Regions from separate parts of the Homo sapiens genome. Here region 1 is linked to region 2. Evidence: fine-mapped expression QTL. Tissue or cell type: lung. Region 2 holds a variant in brackets; the other region holds the start of a gene. All regions are shown on one strand. Distances are from middle to middle.

Region 1 (5,154 bases), 420 kb before region 2:
GTATAATACAACTGGTTAGATTACAGCTTTCTTTAGTTACATCACCCTTCAGAGAATACCATCTGGCAACCTGATTCATTTGTAGTACTTCCTAAATTCCAGCAGCAACCTATTTGTGTCTTTCTACAAATAGTTAATTTCACTAGTTTCAGTATCAGAAACTGGCCTTTTTAAAAACTTCACCTTTTTCTGATCCCTATTTTCCCTTTATCTGTAGAGTTTTTGCACCTCTTTTTAGAGGGATAAACTATGACTAATACATGAGAACATATTTCCACACAGTACTTATCCATATTCCAAATAATGCTGCTCAAATATTAAATACAATTTCAGAATTCTGAATTTCTTGTATTATCCCATGAACTTTATGCAATATGAATTACTATCTTTTTTTTCTTTCTTTCTTTCTTTTTTTTTTTTTTGAGACGGAGTCTCGCTCTGTAGCCCAGGCTGGAGTGCAGTGGCGCGATCTCAGCTCAAGGCAAGCTCCGCCTCCCGGGTTCATGCCATTCTCCTGCCTCAGTCTCCCTAGTAGCTGGGACTACAGGCGCCCACCACCACGCCCGGCTAATTTTTTTGTATTTTTAGTAGAGACGGGGTTTCACCATGTTAGCCAGGATGGTCTGGATCTCCTGGCCTTGTGATCCACCTGCCTCAGACTCCCAAAGTGCTGGGATTACAGGAGTAAGCCACTGCACCCGGCCTATGAATTACCATCTTTCTAACAGCATTTATTAATATATATCTGTAAGTTAGTTTATTAGGTGCTTATCACATGCCAGGCAGCTCTAGGTACAAGGGTAACACAAAAGACTGAGGTTCTAGTAGTAATGGAGAAATAAGGCAAGTTATATAAATTTAACAGAAAAGGGTGTGATTAATTCACTCTGGAGAAGATGGCAAAATTTTTCAAGAAGTGAATCAGGCTAAGTCTAGAAAGATGAATAGGAGTTCATCAGGCACTAGAAAAGAGAAAAGGCATCCCTAACACTCCCCGCCCTCCACCTGCCCCAAATTTGGGAAAATAGAAAAAGAAAGAATAACATAACAATAAAACCAGAAGAAATCCTGTTCACCTCATGCCTGGGGTTGGTGCAGGGGTGGGGGTTGGGCGGGGTAATTGTGTTTTTAAGTATACTTCAGATCAGAAAGTAAACGTTTATAAAACGGGATTTACAATCGAGGGAAAGGGGTGGAGAGGAGGAAGTTCAGTTTATTTTGTTGTATTAACTTAAAACAAATGAGTAAAAATATCAACATCTATGCTTGGGAACACATATACTATCTTTCATAAAAGTCCCTAAGTTTGAAAATGAAAGCATATGGAGCTTTATCCAATATTACAATATTTGCCCTAATGTTTTGTATCCTTAATATTATTTTCAAAGGTTCTAAAGTGAGTCGGCCCAAGATCTTGACAGCACATCCACACACATGCCCAATAATCCACTCTTGATTGAAACAATCAACAGTAGCCTAACCAACTTTTCACTTACCCTGGCTTGAACACCTTCGCATCCTTCAAAGTCTGGCTTTATAGTATGACCATCAACAGACAAATAATTAAGCTCTAAGTTTTGTCACTCAACCTCTTCATCCTTTCATTCAATTATTTCCTCTCAAATCCCATTAGTTTCGCTTTTCTCCTAAAGGGACTCGTAGAAAATACTTGCACAGCACAATCACAAAAACCAGTGGCTGGAGCCAGAGTCCAAACGCGCACACACTACTTTCCAGTCATATCCCTCTTGGGGCTGTTCCTACCAGTGATCAAATTCAGCGGACCAGGAAGAAGGAAAAACCTGAAGCAGGAAGACTGTTTCTCTTCCTTTCACTTCCCCCCACGCCGCCTCCCCCTCCCCCCGCTCTCCCATCCCCCAGGGCCGCACCGCGACCGACCTCGCACGCACCCCCTCCCACTGTCACCCGCCACTGCCTACAAAACAGTCATAGCCTTTGTTAAAATGTCCACGGGCACAATGGATCAGAAGAGGGACACATTCCCGGGGGTGGGTAAAGGAAAGTCACACGAACGCCACGCCCTCCTTGGGACTAGCCCGGGCCGACAGCCCACCGCCTCCAAATCCTTTCCCCTCCGACGGGGAATGTTTCTAGCAACTCTGCACCAGAGAAAGCAGCGCTGGAGGAAGGGATGAGCTTGGGACGTCCCTCATGGGCACCAAGCAGGGGACTGAACTTGAAGCTGGGACACCCTCCAGCACCGTTGGCAAGCCTCGCGGTCCTGCCCAGTCTGTGTGCGGACTTCCAGCCTGTAAACCCCATTCCTTCAATTTTTTTTCTCGTCATACCCACCCTCACCCACTCCCGCTACCACGCACTCCGCTCCCCACGCGGCCCTGGCCGGACACCCACAGGCAGCGTCGCTACCAACGCTACCGCATATCTGACGGGTTTCTCCTCGCAGAACCGAAGTCACCCCCACACACCCCAATCCTTCCTGGGGCGCTTCGCCTGGATCACGTTTCCCCAGCTAGGAACCCAGCGCGGCCGCCACACTCACAGCGGGTCCCGCTCCGCTACTCGCCGTTCTGCGAGCCGCACGTCGCGCCTGCGCGCTCCTATTTCTGCCGAGCCTAGCTGGAGCCAGGAACCGGGAGCGGACTGGAAGGGAGGTGGAAAGAGGCGGGGGCTGGGCTGGGGCGGGGTTAAGAGAGAAGGGGCGGGAACAGGGTGGGGCGCGGGGGTGGGAAACGAGGGGCGGATCCTCCACCGCTTCTGCTGGGAAGACCCAGGGCTCAGGGCATCCTGCTGGAGCTTTCCACTATTGGGGTTTATTTATAACACATACAGAAAAGCCGTCGAGGCCCCTCTGTGCACTCCCACACGCACCGTGGAGAAAGCCTGGCTCGGCGCGGGCCCAAGTAGTCAGCCGTTGGGCCGCCACGTCTCTCCTAGCCACCGCGGGTCCCCGCCAGCCTTTTTCTCTTTCGCATACATACCTCACCACACATTATTCCTTTTCCTAGTCATTTCTCCTCATCGCGTACTCTTCAGCCCTGGTGAAGTGAGGGGCATAGGGATTTCTCATCCACAGACCGCCTGTGTAGGGCATCCTAGTTAATATACCTCTTTGCTATGTGTGAGCCCAGATCGTGGTTGGTGACTATTCGACCATTGTCCACTGTTACAGCTCAGAGAATTGCACTTTCCTTGAGGAATAATTCCCTTGCCACTGTTTCCGGACAACTCTTGGTGACAACTATCTGCTTTTTCTAAAAAAAAAAAAAAAAAAAAAAACCGTCTTGTACAAACTTACCCAAATATCTTGAGAAGAAAACCCATCTTTGACCTCGCTTTTTAGGTAGAGCTATCTTAGAACTTGAATCTTAAACTTCTACAAGCCCCTCTAAGAAACAGAATAAAAGGCTTTTGCTATTGTGTAAACTTTGACCTAATGCTTGGAGGTTTTCTGGCATTTTGCATCATAAGGAGTCTAGCTTGATTATTATTCCATGCTGCATGCGTGCTTGGTTTTAACTTGTATGCTTTTCTGTTTACAGTCTGGTCAGCTGTGGCATCTCACATGCTTTCAGATCAGCTATTAAAATAAACACACGCCTGAGTGAATCCAAAGTGAATTGGGCTGTGGACCTGAAGTGATTTATTCCAAACTAAGTTCCCCTTCTTTTTACTTTAATTGTGATGGAATTAAGAAACATTTGGCTTATTAAGAATAAAAGAATTGCCACAGGACCACACCAATAGTCTTTCCTAGCAAGCATTTTAACTGTGATGGGAGCATTTTATGGGAGAGTTTGGTGATTGCCCTTAAAGATCTGAATATCCCAAAATTCTTCCATTTAACCTTTCTTGTCTTCCATTCATATATTTTACAAATCAGATTTTCTAGAACTCATTTCTATCTTGCACTTGTCAAATAAGCCTAGGGAGGATGTAGAGAGATATATTGCCAAAAGGTATATTGGTAATGTAGGCACAAATTTTGCAGGATTAGTAAGTCTGTAAGTGCCTGGAAGCAGGACTTTGTCCTATTCATTTCACTAGTAAAATATTTCACATACATGTTCTTAAAAAAATTGCTAGGCTAATAAAAGTAAGATTTGCATCCTTAATAAATGTGCATATGTGTTTTTTTAAAACTTTTCACTTGATTATTTTTTTCTTTTTTGTCTAAATTTTTCAGGATATTTTGGTTGAAATGACAAAAACTAGATTGAAGTAGATCAGGCAAAAACAGGAAGTTATTGTGTAACCCAAGTTGTGAAAGGGTAGGTCTATGATTGGCCATAGGATTAAATGGAACCAGCAACAGGAATGCTTTGAATTCCAGCTCAGGCTCTCAATACAGACAGGGTCATTCTAACAGAACATCTCAAAGTCATGTTCTGCTGGTTTGGCACCGTAGCCTGTTACAAGTTGCTCACACCTACCAAGTTCCTACCAGAGAGAAAGTATCTCTCTTCTCTCACTTCCAGTTTTTAAAGCAACAGTTAAAACATCTGATTGGGTAGAATTGAGTACCGTAACCACTCCTGAAGAGAAAATGCGTATGTGACATAAGAATGGGACCCAATTAGAACCACATGGTTAAAGAAAAAAAAATAAAGAGAAAAATTTCTAAATGAAAACAAACAGTAAGGGGGAGATGCCGTTTTCAGAAGAGACAGGCAATGGACAGACAAAAAAAAAAAGATGTCCACCATCGAAACTGTATTTAAGGAATACAGCCTTGGAATTACCTTTGACCCCTCTTTCTCTCCCTCTCCCTGCCTCCCCAAGTATTCAAGTATTAACAAAGCTGGTTAACAGTGTCTGTGTATTAGTTTTCTGTGGCTGCTGTACAAAAATTACCACAAACTTCATGATTTAAAACAACACAAATTTATCTTATGGTCCTGGAGGAAGTCTGACAAGAGTCACACTGGACTAAAATCAAGGCGTCAGCAGAGTTGAGTTCCTTTATGGAAACTTTTTGGGAGAATCTTTTTTCTTGCCTTTTCCACATTCTAGAGACCTCCCACATTCCTTCATTCATGGCTGTATTCCATTTTCAAAGCCAACAATAATATTACTCTGACACACTGACACTTCTGCCTACCTCTTCCACATGTAAGGACCTTTCTGATTATATTGGGCACATTAAGATAATCCAAAACAGTCTCCCTATCTGAA
Region 2 (5,154 bases):
GTGTATCTTAAGAGAAAAGGAAGACATTTGAACTTCATGTCTATAACTAGATGCAGTCTTTTCAAGTTATGACTTGCCATATAACCATTATTTGGTCCTTTTATGGTGAAACAAAAAATTTTAATGCAGATGCTATATTTTTTAAAAGTTCCCTATTAAAGTTAATAGAATAACATTGAGTTAATTCCTGCACTGAAGTTGCCAAGTGTTGACATTCTGCTTGGCACATCCCTGCTATGATCTTATGAAATGCATAGTTTTGGAATTGGTTGAGATGGTATTGGTTGGTGATGCAAACATATAGACATTTTATTTATAATTGTGATTTATAAATACTAACCTTCACTTAATTTTAAATGCAATTCATTTTTCTATTTGTTATATATAATTCTTAAAGCTACCTATTTATAAATAAAAAGCTACAAATTTATAATATAGTATCTGGATTTACAGACCCCTGACTCTTTGTTAACTTTTTGATTTATAAACAAGGGACCAAAAGTCTCAGTTGATAGATAAAAACTCTTCTGCTGGATTTATGCACTCTAACCAAGAGCCCTGGTGTAAATCATTGCCGAGTTTACAAATGTGTCCATTAGTTAGTGATTTGGCTGTGTGATCTGAAAACACCTTCTCTCTTAACTATTAAATTCCCATTTATCTTTTTAATACATGGTACATACTGGTAATTTGTTACTACCAAGAGCTGATTTATTAGAACACTGTAATACATTTTATAACATAAATTTTAAAGGTTTTGAATTAGATACACCATATTCTTGAAACTCCATGGCTGAAAAACAATTATCAGAAGGAAAAATTAAATTTTACATCTAACATCCTTGAAAACAAAACATAGAGTGCTGGCCATAAGAATATTTGTCTTTTGTTTCTATACTATCTCCCCATCCCCTGTATTAGAAGTTTCTTTTTTAAACAAGTGTGTGCAATTGTTGGCTGGACCTAAGCAGACTTCCAAGGGAAGATAAGTACTAGTGCTTGACCTGGACATATTGTTGTGATTGAAACCGCCTTTGCAAAATTATGACTGAGACAGTAAAAGAGATCTAACTTAATTGACTCCATCTTGCTTCTAACCTCCAAGCTGTCTTTGTGGATTCCTGGGCATAGGCTGAACTAACCATGGGAGAAACTCAGTTTATAGTTTATAGTTTAAAACAAAGATGATAACAGCCCTTCCCCAAAGCAGACCTCCCTCTTGCCTGGGACTAAACTGCCTTTGTAGGACTAACGTTAGTCACAAGAGTAGAAATTATGGTTTAGGAGTCATGCAGCTGGAGGCTACAAGATTCTGACCCTCCCTAAACTGCTAGGAAGATCGGTGCTTGAAATATTTTGCAGACCTTGCACTTGATGTATCAGCTGGCACCACCCAGATCAATAAACTGGCTCATCTGATCTTGTGGCCCTCACCTAGGAACTGACTCAGTACAAGAAGACAACTTCCTTATGATTTCATCCCTGACCAGTCAGCACTCCTGGCTCACTGGCTTCCCACCACCCACCAAGTTGTCCTTAAAAACTCTGCTCCCTGAATGCTTGGAGAGACTGATCTAAGTAATAATAAAACTATGGTCTCCTGCACAGCCAGCTCTGTGTGAATTAGTCTTTCTCTATTGCAATTCCCCTGTCTTGATGAATTGGCTCTGTCTAGGCAGCAGGCAAGGTGAACTCCTTGGGCAGTTACATGATTACCATGTACTAAGCCCCTTGTTGAATTTTGGGAAGCCTGCATGGTTTCATGGTGGTTCTCTCTTCCATTCGTGCTTTTCACACTCTGGTGCATATTTGCATTTAAATACCAGCTTGGGGAGCTCAGAGCACTTGTTGAGCAGCCTATTAATTACATATCTGTTAAAGTTATTTATTGTTTCCCTAGCTGAAGGATTTATGTTTATCAATGTAATGCTTTTGCCTACTAGTGACTGAACTACTGGCCACTGTCAGTGAAAATTGCTCCTACAGAGGATTACAGCAAGGCCTGAGGGCACTGAATAAGGATTAGCATTTTAGAATAATAATGTTCTCAAAGTGTTATGTACAATTAAAAAAGAATGATGTTCCTCTTTAGT[A/G]TATCAAATTTGGCAGATCTGTGTGGCTCACTTTGCTTCTTAGGTTCATGTGGTTCACATTTGTACTTTGCTTCCCCTGAAGGTGATATATTTTGTCAAATGGTGATATTTACTGGGAATTTTTTCTTACTGAATTTTCAAAAGCTGAAAGCTATCTAAAGTGGGCAATTAAAGGCATAGATATTCCTTTGGGTGGACTAGCAAAACAATAGACAGAAATTATTACCTTGTAATCTCTATCTAGTCCTGAACTTTGTAGGAATCTTGAGCATTTGGGGCAAGAAAAAATGATGGGTGGCTAATTTGCTGTAAAGCAGTTGGGATTGACCATAAAGTATTTTTTCATAAAGGATTTTTTAACAATACAATTGTTAGAAGAAAGTAGTCCATATATTTTTTTTAAAGACCTCCTTTGAGACTATCTGTGAGCATAGCACAGGGATTGAGGTTGGACACATGAAGGAACTAACACAATTTCTGGAAGTTCAGCATGGTCTGTGTGCTCGAGGGCAAGTCATGGTAGCAAGGCGAGATTAAAATTCAGAGAAGTAAATAAACTACATAATATTTTTCCTGGAAATTCTGGTGCTTCGGCTAGATTTCCCTGCTGAGTAGATGAGTGAGTCACTGCAAGTCACATCAAACTTTCAGAGTCTTAATTCATCTACTTTATATAGAGTGAACTTGATTAACAAACATTTATTGAACACCTATTATTTTCCAGGTACTGTTGAAATTATTGGGAAATGAGTGATCATTTAAACTACAGTCCAACTTCATTGAATTAAAGTCCATAAGAGAAGGCAGACATTTTTACAACTAACAAGATCACATATGTATTAGAAAAGTTTTTTTTTTGTTTGTTTGTTTGTTTGTTTGTTTTGAGATGGAGTCTTGCTCTGTCACCCAGGCTGGAGTGCAGTGGCGCAATCTCAGCTCACTGTAACCTCTGCCTCCCGGGTTCACGCCATTCTCCTGCCTCAGCCTCCCTAGTAGCTGGGACTACAGGTGCCCACCACCATGCCTGGCTAATTTTTTGCATTTTTAGTAAAGACGGGGTTTCACCATGTTAGCCAGGATGGTCTTGTTCTCCTGACCTCGTGATCCACCTGCCTCCCCCTCCCAAAGTGCTGGGATTATAGGCGTGAGCCACCATGCCCGGCCATAAAAGTTTTTTAAAAAAAATACTGTAGAAGAGGAAGGAAAAACTCTATGCTTTCTTTAGTCCTGCAGTATTTGTGGTTCTTGGTGTGGCTAGCAAGTGACAGAGAAGGAGAAAATACCAATTCTTTGAGAACAACTTTGAGAACAAAGAATTGGTATTTTGTACTGTCTGATGGCTCCCTGAGAGATAATCTCAGGGGCTTGCTTTTGTTTTGCTTTCCCAATGGAGTTCCCTCAGCACTGGATTGGCTTTCCAGTAGGCATTTATCAAAAGCATTTAAAGTCCATGTCCACATGAGATGAGGGATAACAGATAGAGCAAGCAGCAGGCAGGCCGAAAAGCCTGGAAAGGGAGAGACTGCTGAAGGAGATACATGGGAGAATAATGGCTTTGAAAAGGTGCCACCTATATTGGAGAATGTAAAAGTCATACACACACTAAGGGCTGGATACATGTTCAGAAAAGACTTGCAAAAACCCTAAGCTATCACCTTCGGCTGGCATTTAGGTTCCATGAAGATAAAGTGAAGGCAAAGGCAGAGTTGTAAATGGCTTGGCTAAGCATTGAAATGGTGACCACAATGGAGCAAATACGCAAAAACTGGGAGAGTATTAAATTTTTTTTTGGCTACAGGTGTTTAAGGAAATCCCTATAAAATTATTAGCTTACCACAAGTTTAATAGAACAGAGGCCTCAATAATAAAGTGAAAAATAATGCAATCTTTGCAAAAATAGCCTAGAAAAGTCACTAAAAATACTACCCAAAACAACAACCACAACTGACAAGAAGCAACAACAAATCATGGGAAGGAAGTAAAATCTGATTTCTATAGTTACCACATTATAATATTTAAAAAGTATTAGCAAAAAATTATAAGGCACACAAAGAAACAAAAGTATGGTTCATTCCCAGGAAAATAAGAAATTAATAGAAACTATCTCTGGGGAAGCTCAGACATTGGACATACTAGACAAAGACTTTAAATCAACTATCTTAAGTGTGCTCAGAGAACTAAAGAAAACCATGGGCAAAGAAATAACAGAAACCAGGAGAATAATGGCTTGATAAATACAGAATATCAATAACAAGATAGAAATTATTTAAAAAAATAGAAATTTTGGAGCTGAAAAATCTAATAATGGAAATGAAAATTCTGTAGAGAAGCTCAGCAGCAGATTTGAGTGGGCAGAAGAAAGAATCAGCAAGTCTGAAGATAGGACATTTGAGATTAACCAGTCTGAGGAAAAGAAGGAAAATAAAATATGAAGACATTTGAAACGAGCCTAAGGAGCCATATGGGATTCCATCAAGCATACCAACACACACATTATGGGAATCTCAGAAGGAGGGGAAAGAGATCAATGGTCATAAAGAATATTTGAAGAAATATTGCCCAAAAACTACCCAATATTGATGAAAGACATAAATCTACACATTCAAAAAGCTCAACAGATTCAAAATAGGATAATCTCAAATACATTCATAATAAGACATAAAATAAATACATTGTCAAAAGCCAAAGAGAAAGAGAAAATTTGGAAACAGTAAACAAACAAAAAACCATGACACATAATGGAACTTCCATAAGATCAACAACTGATTTTTCATCAGAAACCATACACATCAGTAGGAAGTAGGATAATGTATTTAAGGACTGAAAGAAAAAAATACCTGTCAACCAAGAATTATCTATTTGACAAAACTGTCCTTCAAAAATGAAGGAGAAATTAAGACATTCTTATATAAATTAGAGCATGACAGTTAATTGTTAATAGACCCAACCCATAAAAAATGCTGAAGGGAGTTTTTTAGGCTGAAATAAAAGGAAATTAGATAGCAACTTAAAGTCATATGAATAAATTATTAAAACAAGTGTTATTGTATTTTTGGTTTGT

The links. PIP is the estimated chance that this variant, and not a neighbour inherited with it, causes the effect.
Region 1: PRRG1 starts here. The variant in region 2 is the best candidate, but not a certain one, in a credible set for the expression of PRRG1 in lung (TOPMed, PIP 0.76).

What each region holds. Positions count from the first base shown.
Region 1 is chrX:37,346,763-37,351,916 of GRCh38, reverse strand. It overlaps PRRG1 (proline rich and Gla domain 1), which reads right to left and starts at 2,553. Exons shown (of 4, transcript NM_001142395.2): 1 at 2,522-2,553. RefSeq lists enhancers at 1,735-2,245, 2,246-2,757.
Region 2 is chrX:36,927,449-36,932,602 of GRCh38, reverse strand. No RefSeq gene overlaps it. Among named protein-coding and RNA genes, the nearest start is that of FAM47C, 78 kb to the left of the region's middle. The variant A/G (reference allele first, on the strand shown) is at 2,094.